Homo sapiens: one gene and its partners. The protein of the gene in region 3 purifies or fractionates together with the protein of the main gene of each other region. This does not show direct contact. Each region holds a gene or a part of one and is shown on either strand. Other genes may lie near its edges.

Region 1 (3,509 bases), on a different chromosome or scaffold from region 3:
GCTGCCACTTACAGTCTGGGCTTCAGACTTGGGAGAACACATGCCAGAGAAAGAAAAGCTCTGCTGTGATTAAATCACAGATGCTGGGGGTGAGTGTGGGGTGGAAGGGTCTGGCACCCATGCCACCTGCTACACGCAGGAGCTCAATTATACGGTTACGTTCAATACTCAGTCAAGGGACAGGGAGTTGGGGAGAGCAGTGCCATTATAAACTTTGGTTACCTGGGAGAGCCTGGAGAGCTGTGGTTTTCTTAAAGTGGTTAAGTTCTCCTTTGGAAAGTCACCATTCCCTATCCTATGATCCTTTCTCACTAGGAACAACTGCATTTGCTCTTCCTGGCTTTCATATTTTAATTTGGTTCTGAAGCTACGCAGTGGTGGCAGACAAATGACTTGGGAATCAGATACCCTCATTTAATCCTGGAACAAGCTGTCTGAGTGACTTCTACCCCCATGAGGCCCAAAGAAAAACATAATGAAATGAAACCACTTGCTGCTATGAAACAAAAGTGGGCATATTTATGCAGTTGTTTTTATTTATTCAACTGTAAAGACTGCAGCAATTTTTTTGATGAGTAATGCCTTAGATTAACACTAATTATATTGCTATAAATTTGGTTCAGGATCAGAATAGGGTTCAGGAAAGGGAGAGAACAAAAAAAAAAGTCTCCAAACATTAAAACAGAAAAATGCTTTTTTTTTTTTTTTTGAGACTGAGTCTTGCTCTGTCTCCCAGGCTGGAGTGCAGTGGCACAATCTCAGCTCACTGCAGCCTCCGCCTCCTGGGTTCAAGCGATTCTCCTGCCTCAGCCTCCTGAGTAGCTGAGATTACAGGCACACGCCACCATGCTCAGCTAATTTTTGTATTTTTAGTACAGACAGGGTTTCACCATGTTGGCCAGGCTGGTCTTGAACTCCTGACCTAGTGATCCACCCGCCTCAGCCTCCCAAAGTGCTGGGATTACAGGCATGAGCCACAACGCCCAACCTTTTTTTTTTTAAACTTTAATTAAATGCTACTTTCTCATAGACTTCCCTAGACTGGTTTGCAATCTAAGGTAATAGGAAACAAGGCATTGGGCATTTTGAAGAAACTGCAGGTTAAGCTATGGTGCCAAGCAGAAGACTAAACACTGATTTGAGTGTCAAATCTCCAGCACATTCTGGGATAGAGGCAGGTTCTCAAATGTTTCCTAGTGTTCTTTCCTTTTCACTAATTAAATTTTCCCTTCTCTGGCGAATCCAGTGCAGTATACAACCCCCTGATTGCCTCTCTTGGTCAAATAGTTGTTAGAAGGGAACCTGTCAGGCACCTGTGGCTTCGGCTTAGATTGGAAAGGTGACAGACTAGCTCTGATTCACCTCCTCCTGAGACAGCCTGGACAGTGGAGGGATCAACTGGAAGGCCGAAACCTGGTAACAGCTGCCTCTGATTCCTGGTGGAAATGACCAACCAGATTCAATCCATATCACTGGGAAAGATCAAGGAAAAAAAATAGCTTCCCCTCCAAAAATGGTAAAGAGGAAATAAGGAGACAAGAAACCAAAAATACTTAGAATGGCACAAAAAGTGATACGCATAAACTTCTTTTTGTTATTACATCTAACTGTAAGTTTCCTAAAGTCCAGTTATCAAGTTGAATTGTGTGGATAGAGGAGAGAGGCCAACTGGATTTTCTCTCAAGAGTTCACGGCTTCAGTCTGAGAGGTCCTGGGTTTGCGCTGGGGGAGCCCCTTTTTGAATGAAGGCGTGGGAGGGCTGGGCTCCATGCTGACTCCAGTTCCATTGGTCCCTGCAGAGTGAGTCTGGCCTCTTTCAATGGTGTTTCCTGGTGCCTGAGATGGAGCACTCTGATACCTGGAACCAGATGAATACCACGAGCTGTTTCTGTAACGACCCATACTGTCATGCCGCCCTTGGTTCATGGGGTCATTGGACTTTTGGCCTTGTGGCCTATAGCCCTGTCCTCCTCGTCTGTTCCCTGGCAATACCTAAAGATGAAAGAATACAATGTTCAAGGTGCTCTAGCATTATGGTACCCCATTCGTTCACTTTACAGGAGTATTCTGAAAGCAGAATTGTGGTATCCCATGCTTGGGACTCAGTTATCTCTCAAGACTCAAAGAATTCTCTCAGCCAATCCAACCTAGCCACTACTTCAGAACTAATCCATCTTTCCCTGCTCTTCATGCCCAGGCTCTTCTCCACTGAAGAATTTACTTTTCTTTAGCTGGATGCAAGAAGAAAGATAAGGAAGAAAGAACATTCTCTGGGTTGTTACAAGCCCTCGATTGGACAAGTATATTATATTATGTCTGAACTCTGCAGATAAAAGGCCATTGGTAAAGATAATACACATTTGGAATAATAAAGTAAACATCACTATGGCCTGCTTTGCTAAATGTCATGAACTACAGATTAAAGTATGCTGCTGTGGCATTCAGCACATCTTTCGCATTATAATCCGGAAAGCTTACGGTATGGGATTTTATTTTTGTCCTCCAATTCCAAACATCATACCAGTTCTGAAGAATTACTGACAGTACTGCCTTGGATTGCTCTTGTGTTTATTCTTCAAACAGGAGAAGAACCTATGGATTACTCCTCAGCTTTCTAGTGTTTTCCCCCCATCCCCACCAGTTCACTCTCTCTTTCCCTGTAAATTCCACATTGTGCTTCTAGGGAGCTGCTGCTTTCAGATGCACACTGGTAAAACTGCCACTTGTGGTGCCTGTCTACCTTGAGATGGGTGCACGACTCCCAGTGTGACTAATTACCAGGCAATACTATCTACAACAGCAGGGATCACTGCCAACACAAGAAAGTCAGCAGTTCTTGGCAACAGGAAATCTAAACTGGCTGGCAGTTTGGAACATACGTATCTAATGCTTTCTCAGGAACTAACTTGGGTTGGAGGGATTCAAAACAGGCATGGAATGGGAATAGAGAGGAAGATAATATACTGAGCTAACAGCATTTAAGCTTTGACAATCTGGAGGGTTTTCTTCCTAACATGCTCAGTGTAGAAGCTAGGTTACCTCCCGAAGTGGCTGGTAGGGCTGGCCACTGGAGTTTGCTATGGCTGCAGGAGTCTCTCCCGGTGCAAAGTTTTTCTTGTTAGCACTTGTAAGGCTGGGAGGAGAGGCACAGGTGGAAGAGGAAGCAGCAGAGGCATCACTTGGGCTACTCAAGGACACAGATGTAACTGAGCTACATCGGGATCTGGTCGAATAGCTGTTCTTTGGATGAGACACTGAAACAGAAATATGAGGAATATATGATCATATGATAGAACAGCACAATGGATAAGGTTTCTACTTTCTCAATTTCACAATGAGCAATTTAAGATAAAGAACTGTCTATTCGAATAAAGAAAAACCTATAAAACTGGTAACAGGAAGAAAAATCTCCCTTCTGCCCTCTTCCTCCACTTCCTCCAAAGCCCCACTGCTTTGTAAAGGAATTCTTAGACAAGAGAACAGTTAAAATCAAAGTTACCCATTCCCCA
Region 2 (7,045 bases), on a different chromosome or scaffold from region 3:
AGGTTGTAGCTACCAAGTTGTAGAGCTGGGATTTGAACATAGACATTCTCACTGAGAGCTCAGCTCTTCACCAAGTTCAGATTCAGTAGCATCACTGTCTTTGTACAACAGTATTTGTACTGCCAAGGTTTCAGGATTTATTTTACAATTGTGTTGGAAACCTTGCTTGGGGCCTCAGCTCTTGCTGGAATTCATTGAGGGTATATGTGGACAGGGCTATGTGGTGATAAATTGTGGTGGGTTGAAATTTTACTGGTGGTGTCTAGGGTTGGAATAGCTTTTCTGTGTGCATAGATTTGAAACATCTTCCCAGTGCATCTCACATTACTAATAAGTTTGGGTATTGCATTTTTCGTTTTTGAAAACCTCCACCCATGACCTTACTGGAACCCATACTTGATTATTTGGTCTCCTTTTGCTAAAATTATTCTCTTTTGCTACGTAGTTCCCAGCAGATTTTGTACTCTTGTGTGACTTGGTAAGCCCCAGTGCCTTCTTTCGTTATTTTTTTGAGACAGGATCTGGCTCTGTCACCCAGGCTGGAGTGTCTTGGCTCACTGTAACCTCCACTTCCCAGGCTCAAGTCATCCATCCACCTCAGCCTCCTGAGTACTGGGACTGCAGGCGGGCACCACCACGCCTGGCTAATTTTTGTATTTTTTGTAGAGACAGCATTTCACCATGTTGTTCAGGCTGGTCTCGAACTCCTGAGCTCAAGCAATCTGCCTGCCTTGGCCTCCCAAAGTGCTGGGGTTACAGGCGTGAGCCACTGCGCCCTGCCCATTATTATTATTATTTTTTTAAGAAGGAGTCTTGCTCTGTCACCCAGGCTGGAATGCAGTGGCGCGATCTTGGCTCACTGCAACCTCTGCCTCCTGGGTTCAAACAGTTCTCTGCCTCAGCCTCCTGAGTAGCTGGGTTACAGGCATGCACCACCATGCCCGGCTAATTTTTGTTTTTGTTTTTGTTTTGTTTTTTTTTTTGAGATGGAGTCTCACTCTGTCCTGCAGGCTGGGGTGCAGTGGCGTGATCTCCGCTCACTGCAAGCTCCACCTTCCGGGTTCACGCCATTCTCCTGCCTCAGCCTCCAGAGCAGCTGGGAATACAGGCGCCCGCCACCACGCCAGGTTAATTTTTTGTATTTTTAGTAGAGACAGGATTTCACCACATTGGCCAGGTTGGTCTTGAACTTCTGATCATGTGGTCCACTTGCCTCAGCCTCCCAAAGTGCTGGGATTACAGGCGTGAGCCACTGCACCTGGCCCCATTATTCTTAATTTTAAAACATTTTCAGTGGTTATGGATTAGGGAAGGGAAGGGATGGAGGGAGATAATAAATATTTGACTCTGTTTTGTTATGCAGCCTCCTCTACCCCATACTTTTATTTATTTATTTTTCTTTCTTTTTTTTCTTTTTTGTTTTTAATTTCACGCTCATATTTTTAGATAATTGGAAGTGGAATTGATGGTCAGGTATGGCACTTAATAAATTTGTATAGAATATGGGAATTGCTAGGTCAGCAAATTGCATAATAGAAATAGAGAAAGTTCAAAGTAGAAAAAATGTGTGCATAGTCTTTAGAATATACACACATACACAGGCATGAGATCCCTTGTTTTAATATGTCGTACTGACCTGCAGTCTTGGATTAGCCTGGATCAGGTGTAAGATATTTTCCAGTGTGTCTCCCGGGTGACAGTCACTTCTTTGCTGAGTTAGGACATTTCTCTTGGGTGCCTGGCTCAGGTAATTATTCCACTATAGTTCATAGTTTAGGAGTTCCTGACCCCAGGATGGTGTGTGATACTGGTCTGTGGCCTGTTAGGAAATGGGCCGCACAGTAGGAGGTGAGCAGCAGGGTGTTGTGGGGGAGAGCATTACTGCCTGAGCCCCGCCTCCTGTCAGATCAGCTCTTAGGAGTAGGAACACAAACCCTGTTGTGAACTATGCATGTGAGGAATCGAGGTTGGCGCTCCTTATGAGACTCTAACTAATGCCTGATATCTGAGGTGGAATAGTTTTATCCCGAAACCATCCCTCCCTGCCATCTGTGGAAAAATTGTCTTTCATGAAATCGGTCCCTAGTGCCAAAAAGGTTGGGGACCACTGCTCTAGTTCATAAATGAAAACTTGCAGGTCCTCAATCAAAAGTGGTATTTATTCTGACCTCCTCTTGGACAGTGTGGTAGCTTTGTGAGTCTGGTCCTATTTTGCCTCAGAAGTGACAGGGTACCTTGGTGAGTGAAGACTATCTTGCGTTTCTGTAGAAAAGTCACTTGGCACAACCTATTTTTTTCCATTCTGAAAATATGACCATTTAAAAAGCCCTGACTTACTAGAACTTCTCTCAATGAATCTAGAACTTCCATCACCATTGGATGGCTGAGACCACCTCTGCCATACCAAAACCTTGCTCATAACCAAAACAGTCCCTGTTGGTCTTTTGCCCTGGACCTGTGACATTCTGGACTATTTTTGTGTTCAGTTTTGGCCAAGTGTTAACAAGCATACAAAGCTGGGCACAGTGGTTTGGCTGGGTGAGGTGGCTCATGCTTGTAATCCCAGCACTTTGGGAGGCCGAGGTGGGTGGGTTGCTTGAGGCCAGGAGTTCGAGACTAGCCTGGCCAAAATGGCAAAACCCCATCTCTACTAAAAATACAAAAATTAGCCAGGTGTGGTGGCAGGCGCCTGTAACCCCAGCTACTCAGGAGGCTGAGGCAGAAGAATCACTTGAACCCGGGAGGCGGAGGCTGCAGTGAGCTGAGATTGTGCTACTGTACTCCAGCCTGGGGGACAGAGCGAGACTTCATCTCAAAAAAATAAAAAATAGGGCTGAGTGCAGTGGCTCACGCCTGTAATCCTAACACTTTGGGAAGCCGAGGCCGGCGGATCATGAGGTCAAGAGTTTGAGACGAGTCTCACCGACATAGTGAAACTCCGTCTCTACTAAAAATATACGAAAAATTAGCCGGGTGTGGTAGTGTGCATCTGTAATCCCAGCTATTCAGAAGGCTGAGGCAAGAGAATCGCGTGAACCCAGGAGGCGGAGGTTGCAGTGAGCCGAGATCGCGCTATTGCACTCCAGCCTGGGCTCCAGTGCGAGACTCCATTGCGGGGGGCGGGGGGGCAGCTAGTGTGATGGTGCATGCTTGAACCCAGGAACTTCAAGCTGCAGTGAGCTGAGATTGTGCCACTGTACTCCAGCCTGGGCAACAGAGCAAGATTCTATGTCAAAACAAATAAACAAAAAACTATTCTGCTGTCTTAGCTGAATAATTCAAACAAACAACAACAACAAAAAACCCTGACCTAGACTTTTAAACTGAAAATGAAGGTTTTAGTGCACAAAAATATTCTTAGATGAATACATAGATTAGAGGGTAGTTGTTGAAACATAGGGCAAGATGAAGAGATTAGTACATTTCTTTTTTTTTTTCTGTTTTTGGAGACAAGGTCTTGCTGTGTTGTCCAGGCTGCAGTGCAGTGATGTGAACATGGCTCACTGCAGCTTCGACCTCCTGAGCTCAAGTGATCCTCCCGCCTCAGCCTCTGGAGTAGCTGGCACTGCAGGCACATGCCACCATGCCTGGCTAGTTTTTTAAATTTTTATTTTATTTTATTTTTTTGAGATGGAGTTTCACTCTTGTCGCCCAGGCTGGAGTGCAATGGTGCGATCTCAGCTTGCTGCAACCTCCGCCTCCTGGGTGGATCACTTGAGTCCAGGAGTTTCAGACCAGCCTGGCCAACGTGGTGAAAACCCATCTCTACTAAAAATACAAAAAAATTAGCTGGGCATGGTGATGCACGCCTGTAATCCTAGCTACTCGGGAGGCTGAGGCAGGAGAATAGCTTGAACCCAGGAGGTGGAGGATGCAGTGAGCCGGGATTGCACCACTGTACTGCAGCCTGGGTGACAAAGCTAGACTCTGTCTCAAAAAAAAAAAAAAAAGTTGAAAAGATTTGGAAAAAATTTAATAGCTGGTAGCCATCACTAATCACTGGTTCTTTGAACTTCCTGTTGTGATCACTTTGTATTATCTTTTTTTTTTGATAGATTTTTTAAGATGCAGTCTCACTCTGTCACCTGGGCTGGAGTGCAATGGCGTGATCTCCACTCGCTGCAACCTCCGCCTCCTGGATTCAAGTGATTCTCCTGCCTCAGCCTCCCAAGTAGCTGGGATTACAAGCACCTGCCACCACACCTGGCTAATTTTTGTATTGTTAGTAGAGATGGGATTTCACCATGTTGGTCAGGCAGGTCTTGAACTCCTGACCTCAAGCAATCCACCTTCCTCGGCCTCCCAAACTGTTGGGATTACAGGCATGAGCCACCGCACCCGGCCTGTATTATCTTATATATATATCTTTCATTTTTCTAGCAGACTGCCCTTTTTTCCCCCATACAATTTGTTCATTTATGCATTCCTTCATTCAACATTTATTGAGGGCCTGATATGTGTTAGGCACAATATAGATGCAGGAAATGAGTACTAAACAGCACAGACATAGTTTCTGCTTTCAAGGAGCTTATCTCCTTGAAATGACAGTACACATCACCATTACAGTTATGTTAAGGGATTTGAAGGAATAGGACAGTTTGCCATGAGAGCATACAATAGGGGCATTTGGACTGTTGGGGTCAGGTCAAGAAAAGGTTTCCTGTGGAAATGATGTTTTACTTTGGACATGAAAAGAGAACCAGGGTTAGGCAAAGAGATGGGGAGAGGGTGGTGAAGACCCTGAGAAAAGGAGCTTGGTCCACTTGAGGATGTAAGCAAAGGCTTGTGCAGTTGGAATGAAGAAATGAGTGAGGAAGTGAGATGAGGCTGGGGTGGGCAGCGACTCAGCTTTGTAATCCATTTTAAGGATATTGAAATTTGTTTTAAAGACAGTGGAATCAGGCCGGGTGTGGTGGCTCACGCCTGTAATCCCAGCACTTTGGGAGGCCAAGGCAGGTGGATGACGAGGTCAGGAGATCGAGACTATCCTGGTAACACGGTGAAACCCCGTCTCCACTAAAAATACAAAAAATTCTCCGGGCGTGATGGCGGGCGCCTGTAGTCCCAGCTACTCCGGAGGCTGAGGTAGGAGAATGGCGTGAGCCCGGGAGGCGGAGCATGCAGCGAGCCAAGATCGAGCCACTGCACTCCAGCCTGGGCAACAGAGCAAGACTCCATCTCAAAAAAAAAAAAAAAAAAAAAAAGACAATGGAATCAATACCTGTGAAAAGAAAGAAAAGGACAGTGGATGACATTAAAAGGATTTAACCAGAGGAGTAGAGTGATAAGGTGTGCATGTAAAAAAGATAGCTCTGAATACTGTGTGGGAAATAAACCTTTAAACTAAAAGGGAAGCAAGGCCAGGTGTGGTGGCTCACGCCTGTAATCCCAGCACTTTGGGAGGCTGAGGCAGGAGGATCACGAGGTCAGGAGATCGAGACCATCCTGGCCAACATGGTGAAACCCTGTCTCTACTAAAATACAAAAAAATTAGCCAGGCCTGGTGGTACGAGCCTGTAGTCCCAGCTGCTCAGGAGGCTGAGGCAGGAGAATCACTTGAACCTGGGAGGCAGAGGTTGCAGTGAGCCGAGATCGTGCCACTGCACTCCAGCCTGGTGACAGAGCAAGACTCTGTCATAAATAAATAGGAGGCAAATGTAGAATGGGTCGGTCAGTTAGGAGGCATTATTCATTTTTAGGTTCATCCTTGTCCCTTGCAATCTTGCACATGGTAGGTATTTAACAAAGGCTTGCTGAGTGAAGGAATGTGTCTTCTGTAATTTGTATTCATGGTAAAAGCAAGGCTCCTATTCTCCAACTTTTAGAATTTTTAAGTAAAGGATATTGTGTTTAAAGATGGAGCTCTCTTCTATTTAGCGTTTTTATAAGTTGTGGCAATATCTTTAATAGTCTCTGAAATTCTTGTAGGAAGTGGAAACTGAGCATACTATTTCAGCTGCTAAGGAGACCATTCATGGCAGCTGCAAGAACATGCAGATGAAAAACTTTCCTTTTTATTTGCAAAATTGATACTTTTCCTACTGTCAGTATCCATCCCTCAGTAAGATTGGATGAACAAATCCCAGGACCTCTTCTCCAGGGCATGTGGACAGCAGGCCTGCATGTGTCCAGGCCTGCTGCTGCCTGCATCTCCAAGGACTAGTAGCTTCTTTGGGAAGTGTTACCTCAGGAGTGCAGCTTGTGCGTTCATTCAACAAATTTTGATAGTGTCTTGCCAATGATTTATCCCAGTTCTTCCCAAATTTCTATCGTTCTTTTACCTAATCTCATTATTTTAGCTGCATTATAGTATTATCTGTGCTATCAGTTAATATTTTTCTCCAAGGTGACTTTTAAAATTAAATTTATTTTATAATTATATTATTGCTATGAGTGGAAAACTTGTATCACTTGCTGTAGGAAAATAAAACTGTAAAAGTAAAGTACAATGAAAACTAAACAATGTTATTAACCAGATTCTGATACTTGTGAAACTTCAGGACCTATTCCTTCCTTCTGGAAAAAAAAAAAGGCCGAGTGCGACAGCTCATGCCTATAATCCCAGCACTTTGGGAGACCGAGGCAGACGGATCACGAGGTCAAGAGATTGAGACCATCCTGGCCAACATGGTGAAACCCCGTCTCTACTAAAAGTACAAAAAAAATTAGCTGGGTGTGGTGGTGCGCACCTGTAGTCCCAGCTACTCAGGAGGCTGAGGCAGGAGAATTGCTTTAATCTAGGAGGTGGAGGTTGCAGTGAATCGAGATCATGCCACTGCACTCCAGCCTGGCGACAGAGTGAGACTCTGTCTCCAAAAAAAAAAAAAGATACTAGCAATTTTTAGAGAAATAGTAGGCTAGCACCAAACTGACACTTTCTCCTTAATGTAAAGGAAGTATTAGAAAAGAGATTAGGGCCAGGCGTGGTGGCTCACGCCTGTAATCTTAGCACAATCCCAGTTGAACCTTGGAGGCGGAGGTTGCAGTGAGCTGGGATCGCGCAACTGCACTCTAGCCTGGGCAACAGAGCGAGTCTCAAAAAAAA
Region 3 (7,421 bases):
TGTGAGTTGGAGGGAGCCTGACATGGGTCCTGCCGATTAGGACTGGTGGAGGCCAAGGGTGACCCAGAGAAGCCTAATGGAGAGTCCTACTGCTACCAAGGCTCCCAAGAAAGTTGCTCAGAAAAGGTGCACCTGCGGCTGGGCGCGGTGGCTCTTGCCTGTAATCCCAGCACTTTGGGAGACCAAGGCATGCAGATCACTTGAGGTCAGGAGTTCAAGACCAGTCTGGCCAACATGGTGAAACCCTGTCTCTACTAAAAATACAAAAATCAGCTGAGTGCAGTGATGCTCGCCTGTAATCCCAGCTACTCGGGAGGCTAAGCATGAGAATCGCTTGAACCTGGGGAGGGGGAGGTTGTAGTGAGCCGAGATTGCACCACTGCTCTCCAGCCTGGGCAACAGAGTGAGACTCCATCTCAAAAAAAAAAAAAAAGAAAGAAAGAAAAGGTGCACCTGGACCTATTGAAGAAGAAAGGCCCCAGCCTCCCCTCTCTGATTTCCAGCCTCCTACCTGCCAGCTGCTGCCTGGGCCAGAAAGAACCCTTTATCTGCTAAGGGTATTTTGGGGCCATTTGGGACTCGGGTTCCCAGCTGTTGGAGGAAGTCCCTGAATTTCCTGAACCAAGTTGGGACCTTGTGTCTTGCTCAGCATCACTTTGGGGACACAGATTCCCAATTCCCCTTGGATGGCTTCCTACTGCATTCACCTTCCTCACCTTTCCTCCAAGAAGCCCACCGAGCTGAGACTGTGTGAGCAAGCGCTCCTCGCTCCCCAGTCTCCTGTAGCCCCTCGGGCTTGGCTTCCTTCCACAGCTTGCTCTGGAGGGCCCCACGACCCCACAACAAGGACTGCTGCTGTGCCTTGCACAGAGCCTAGGGACTTCCCCTTCTACTCTTCACAGCACTTTCATACCACCTGAAACCTGCCGAGGGCACCCGGGGGCTCTATCCACTGCCTGCTTTTAAGAGTCCCATGAATGGCTGTTTTCCTTGGTTGCTACCAGCCCATCTCCCCCTGGGATCCAGCTGGCTCCCTGGCCACAAAATGTGCCTTCCCTCCACTTAAGCCATGTGTCAGCTACTTTCCTGGGCGCCCTGGGGGAATTCTGGTTCTCAGGAGTACACAGTTTCCTGGGGCAGAGGGATGCATGAACCAGTCATTATGGTTATGACATGATGAGATCAGATCTAGAATTGCGGCACAAAAAATGACAGAAACCACTTTTTGACTGGGAAGAGGGCTGGGGGACAGGAGACACTGCCAGGAAAGCAACAAGGAGGAGGTGGCATTGGAACAGGTTAGGAAGATGATCAGGAGTCTGTGTGCGTCCCAGGTGGAGGCCAGCGTGGGCAAAGGCTGGCAGGGGTGAGAAGGCTGCACATTTGGCTGGAGTATAGGTCCAGGAGAAGTAAAAAGGCACAAGGGAGGAGTCAGCCCCTGCCAGGCTGTGAGCAGACTTGTGCACCCTTGCATTTGGGTGACTCTGACCCAGGGGAGCCACTGCAGGGGTTCCTTTCCTGCAGAATGGGCATAAAAGTAGGACCTTGTTCATGGGGTTTTCATGAGGATACAAGAAACCAATGCCTGAAAACTCTTAGCACAAAATAAGCACTCAAAGGTAGCTGTTATTGTTATCATTAAATGAATAATATAATTTTCTACGTGGTCCTCTGCCAAAACACACACCATACTTCCGCAAGGGTTCTCTACAGGGGAGTGTCTTGGTGAGATGTGTGTGCTAGAAAGGTCTCTTTGGAAATCCATGGAGGGAAGGATATGAGGGAGAGACAAGTTTCCACAACATCTATAGATTTATCCTTTTTAATGGATGTGCAATATTCCATTAAATGGATGTACCACAATTTCCGTAATCATTTCTTGTTGTGAATCTCAGAGTATTTCAAAAATTTATAAATAATATATAAGGAAATGTTACTGTATAGTTTTCTTTTTTCTTTTTCTAGTTTTCCAGTTAAATTATTTCCTTAGTTTTTCTTCACTGAGGTGAAATTACTGAGCCACTCACAAGTAGTACACATTTTTTTTTTTTTTTGGCTTTTGCTAAAAATTGCCATACTGCTTTCTGAAAAGGGTTGTAACATTTACCAGCAGAGTATGAATGAGTATTCTGGTCTCACCACAACTTTGGGGTTGGATTTACCAAAATTGTTTTTATAAAGCAAAAAAAAAAAAATGATGATTGTATAGATCTAAAAGGTTATCAAAGGTTGCTTGAATTTGCATTTCTTTAATTACTAAAAAGGTTAAACTTATAAAACTTGTAATTGATTTTTATTTGTATTTCTCCTTGTGCAAGCTATTTTGATGCTGTTGTTCATTTATTTATTCAAAACACCAGCCCTTCTCTCTCTCTCTTTTTTAATTAAACAAAAAATAGAGATGAGGTCTTGCTACGTTACCCGGGCTGGTCTCAAACTGGGCTCAAGTGATCCTCCAACCTCGGCCTCCCAAAGTGTTGGGATTACAGATATGAGCCATGTCACCCAGCTGCCAGCTTTTCTACTTTTGTAGTAGAAAGCTCTGGACTGGGAAGCAGGTGTCTTGCGTTCCTCCTGTCCCTGTCTGGTTCTGTCATTATCACAGGCAGGTCACTTCCATAATTGCTTACCTCATTGTTTAACATAGTCCCAGCTCAAACAGCCTAAGATACTGGGCCTGGTACATCCAGAGGAGAGTCTGGAAGTGGGTCTCTTGGGAAGGGGCATGATGGAGCAGTTTTCCCAAGTGGAGTCCAGCAGCCCCAGGAGGGTTGAGCATGGAGTGGTCAGTTGTGGAGACCTTGCTGGGAAGTTCCTGGTGGGAGGTTATCACTCCTACCCTATAGGGCCTTCACCTGATGGAGGCCTGGTACCTCGCAGGACAGATCAAGGTAGACACAGAAGCCAGAGTATCCTTAGGCTATTCTGGGCTCAGGGAAAATAACTGGCCCACCCTTAATTAGAGCACCTAGGACTGCCTGCCTATTTCTGAGCCTTGGCTTTCACATCTGAAAACCAAACAAAATCAGTCAAAAGAACCCTTGACCTGTGGCCCACCCAGCAGATGCTCAACACAGACACACGGAATGTGGAATAAAAGGAGCAAAGAGAAAACCCAGGGGATGGGGAAGCACTGGAAGGGAAAATCATTCACCAGCAAATGAGAACATAGTACGAGGAGGCTTGAATCATTTCTGTTAGGAGAGAGTGCCAGCCGCCTCCTCCAGGAAGAAAACTCTAAAGGGTCAGGCCTCAGGGAAATAAAATGATCTATACCATCCATCAGTTCCTCCAACATTCAGTCCATCCATCTACCAATCCACCCACCCATTTACCCACTCACCTGCTGCTCATCCATCCATCCATCCATCCACCTATGCATCCATCCATCCATCCATCTATGCATCCATCCATCCACCCATCCACCCACCCATTTACCCACTCACCTGCTGCTCACCCATCCATCCATCCATCCATCCATCCATCCATCCATCCATCCACTTATGCATCCATCCATCCACTTATGCATCCATCCATCCATCCATCCATCCATCCATCCATCCATCCACCTATGCATCCATCCATCCATCCATCCATCCATCCATCCATCCATCCATCCATCCACTTATGCATCCATCCATCCATCCATCCATCCATCCATCCACCTATGCATCCATCCATCCATCCATCTATGCATCCATCCATCCACCCATCCACCCACCCATTTACCCACTCACCTGCTGCTCACCCATCCATCCATCCATCCATCCATCCACTTATGCATCCATCCATCCATCCATCCATCCATCCACTTATGCATCCATCCATCCATCCATCCATCCATCCATCCATCCATCCATCCACCTATGCATCCATCCATCCATCCATCCATCCATCCATCCATCCATCCATCCACTTATGCATCCATCCATCCATCCATCCATCCATCCATCCATCCATCCATCCACCTATGCATCCATCCATCCATCCATCCATCCACCAATTTATCATCCACTCACTGATTCATTTTACAGCAAATGCTTATGAATGGGGATGGGTGGGTGATGGTTGCTTTTTCTGCAGTCTCCCTAGGCCAGTTGTCCCTTCCAAAGAATCTCAAGGGCATGGGAGAAGGTCCTGGCTGATCGTGTCAGGGACAGGAAACTACTCACATTTCACCGTTTCTTGGGGCAGGAGTGGAGGTGGGGGCATTGGAACCCCCTTGGGGCCTCCTAATATCCTGTGAGTCCCCACCTCCAGGGCCAGAAGCTGCCTGCCTCCGCTCCCCGCAGCCCAGGTGCGGCGGGCAGCACACTCCCTAGAGCCAGGACCACTAGTTCCGTCAAATCCGGGGCGGGCCATTCAAACAGCTAAGGGAGGCGTCTCCTAGTGTGCCTTTTCCTGAGTCATCTCTGCACGTGTTTGCCCCCTTTTTTCTTCGCTGCTTGTAGCTAAGTGTTCCTGGAACCAATTTGATACGGGAGAACTAAGGCTGAAACCTCGGAGGAACAACCACTTTTGAAGTGACTTCGCGGCGTGCGTTGGGTGCGGACTAGGTGGCCGCGGCGGGAGTGTGCTGGAGCCTGAAGTCCACGCGCGCGGCTGAGAACCGCCGGGACCGCACGTGGGCGCCGCGCGCTTCCCCCGCTTCCCAGGTGGGCGCCGGCCGCCAGGCCACCTCACGTCCGGCCCCGGGGATGCGCGTCCTCCTCGCCGCGCTGGGACTGCTGTTCCTGGGGGCGCTACGAGCCTTCCCACAGGTAAGCGGGTGACGGGCGCCTGGGGAGGTGCCGGCGGTCCAGAGCCCGGACAGTGTGGGGTGCGTGGGACGCAAGGGAGGACACTCCTCACCCCGTTCCCTGCCCAGCTGGAGTGAGGGGGCGCGGGTGACAAGCAGGAACACCGGAATATGCTAGCACCCACAGGTGGGAGGCTGGCTGAAGGGCTAGTGGTGGGGGGCGCCTCCTTCTCACCCCGCGATGGCTGGGACTGATTCATTCATTCAGTGTGAATTGGACTGAGAGCACTGCCATACGCGGGAGGCGCTCTTTAGCCCGCCTACCTGCGGGCCCGTCGGGGTCCTGGGCAGATCAGGTGAGGCCGTGGGAGTAGTGGGCAGGCCAGATGGGGCCTCCCTTAGCCATGGGAGGTTGGTCGTCCGCGCTCTACCCTGTTGTGTGCGCGGTCCCGTTTGCCCCCTTCCTAAGCTGGCCACTGGCTGGAGGGTCAAGGAAAGGAGGGAGAGTTGGCTGTGGGTGAGAGTGGGGTGAGGGTGCAGGACCACCGGGATTAGCTTCCCCAATCCGCGTCCGGCAAAGCAACGCTGTGGATTGAATTCGCTGGAGCACGTGGTGGGCATTTGCCCCTGGAAGAAGGTCAGTGGTGGGGCTGAAGTCTATGGTGGGTTGCCTCAGAATTGAGTTTGGGGACTGCTTTAGGAAAACTGAGCACTTACCAGTGGCCAGCGCCAAATTAATCACTGTGGGGAGAATGCAAAGTAACCAGGCGTGTTTCACGGAGCCCAGGGGCTGCTGGAGAGAGAGGCCCTCAGCTGACCCAGGACCCCGGTGGACCCCTGCATAGAACCATAGTAGGTGCGAGTGGATGCCTGCTGAATGATACAGAGGGAAAGGAAGGAGCAGGCTGTTAGTCCAGCGGTGGGTCACGGTGGGGGAGAGGGAAGACCCAGTTCCCCTTTAATCCTACAGGAAGAGAGGACTCCATGCTATGGATCAATTCTAGTCATCTGAACCTTAGGCAGTGGGAGGAGAGTGGCAGAGTGGGCTTTAGGCAGGAGGGAGGAACTATGCAGCAAAGGAGGAACTATGCCCTCTTCCATTTCCAATGGGCAATGTGAGGTATTCCCCCTTTCCCCCCAAGAGGGCAGAGGGGACAAAGCCCTGGCTAGAGACACCCTGTCCCAGCTCTGCAAGCCCTCACCTGGGGGAAGGTAAGAGTTTGGAGTGCCAAGGTCTTGGGGAGATGAAGGGAAGGAAGAGATGTGAGAGGTGCTTGGGGGGCTTTGCTGGTTTGGTTTGGCAGCTGAAGCTCATGTGCTTCCTTTCTGTAGAGTGAAGCCCCCTCCACTTTTTTTAATGTTAGAGACAGGGTCTCACTCTGTTGTCCAGGCTGGAGTGCGATCATAACTCACTACAGCCTGAACTCTCATACCAAACCTTTTTTTTTTTTTTTTTTTTTTGAGACTGAGTCTCACTCTTGTTGCCCATGCTGGAGTGCAATGCTCGATCTCGGCTCACTGCAACCTCTGCCTCCCGGATTCAAGTGATTCTCCTGCCTCAGCCTCCCAGGTAGCTGGGATTACAGGCATGTGCCACCACACCCGGCTAATTTTTGTATTTTTAGTAAAGATGAGGTTTCACCATGTTGGTCAGTCTGGTCTCGAACTCCTGACCTCAAGTGATCCTTCCGTCTCGGCCTCCCAAAGTGCTAGGGTTACAGGCATGAGCCACCACACCCAGCCTCCCATACCCTTTTTAAAATAAAAATACTATATATTTAATTGCACAAGGAATATATAAATATATTCTCAAAGCAAAACTGTAAACGCTACAGATAAAGCCAAGTCTTTTGACACCGCCTCATCCTGATCCCTTCAAAGATATAACCACCATAATTGATTTGGTGTGTTTCCTTTGCAGACCTTTATAAATGCATGTCCATATTTATATTGTTTTAATAGACATATATATAGTTTTCCATATACTATACCCTACAGTACATATGGTTCTTCATTTGGCTTTATAATGTCTATGAGGCATCTTGGTGAGCTTTCCATGCTGAAACTTACAGATCCTCTGCCTATCTTTTAAAATGCTATGTGATCTTTTGCCAAATGGGATGTTTCATAGTTTATTTATGTCCTGGATGGATGGGTGCTAAGGTTGCCACCATTGTTCTTTCTTTCTTTCTTTGTTCTCTACTACAGTGCACAGCCCTATATGGATGCTTTTGGAAATAAATGTCTGTGATTCTTTCCTAGACAAGAGACTGAGAAGAGAATACTGAGGTTGCAGGGCGAAAATGCATTCAAATTAAAAGACACCACCGAACTGCCTTCCAGGGTGGCTGGACAATTTACCCTCCCGCTAGCAGTGCAAGAGAGTAGTAACTTTCCCACATCCTAACCGACATTTGATCTTATCAGCATTTTAATTTTTCTCAATGTGATTAGTGAAAAGGGTTATATCCTTGTTGCCTTAATTTGCATTTCTCGCCTACCGGGGAAGCTGAGCATCTCTCTGGGCTCAGGCACTAGGTCATTTCTTGGCAGGAGTCAGGGAGTCCTTGGGGAAGGGACTACCTGCCCAACACAGTACTCCTTTTTGCCCCTCAAGCCTTCTCCCACTTCTGTTTTTTCCAGTAAAGGTTCGGGAAGCTCGTTATTTTAAAAAAAAAATCCC

The links.
Region 1: the proteins of TNFRSF8 (region 3) and SPATS2 purify together in Homo sapiens (affinity purification with mass spectrometry; 2 studies listed by BioGRID and IntAct, with this or other methods). This does not show direct contact.
Region 2: the proteins of TNFRSF8 (region 3) and NAA25 purify together in Homo sapiens (affinity purification with mass spectrometry; 2 studies listed by BioGRID and IntAct, with this or other methods). This does not show direct contact.

What each region holds. Positions count from the first base shown.
Region 1 is NC_000012.12:49,524,427-49,527,935, reverse strand, and holds the end of SPATS2 (spermatogenesis-associated serine-rich protein 2), read right to left. Parts: intron 3,255-3,509; coding exon 3,040-3,254; intron 1,993-3,039; coding exon 1,681-1,992; 3' UTR 511-1,680; downstream 1-510.
Region 2 is NC_000012.12:112,098,774-112,105,818, reverse strand, and holds part of NAA25 (N-alpha-acetyltransferase 25, NatB auxiliary subunit), read left to right. Parts: intron 1-7,045. UniProt on the Homo sapiens protein: Non-catalytic subunit of the NatB complex which catalyzes acetylation of the N-terminal methionine residues of peptides beginning with Met-Asp, Met-Glu, Met-Asn and Met-Gln. May play a role in normal cell-cycle progression.
Region 3 is NC_000001.11:12,058,902-12,066,322, forward strand, and holds the start of TNFRSF8 (tumor necrosis factor receptor superfamily member 8 isoform 1 precursor), read left to right. Parts: upstream 1-4,401; 5' UTR 4,402-4,697; coding exon 4,698-4,760; intron 4,761-7,421. UniProt on the Homo sapiens protein: Receptor for TNFSF8/CD30L. May play a role in the regulation of cellular growth and transformation of activated lymphoblasts. Regulates gene expression through activation of NF-kappa-B.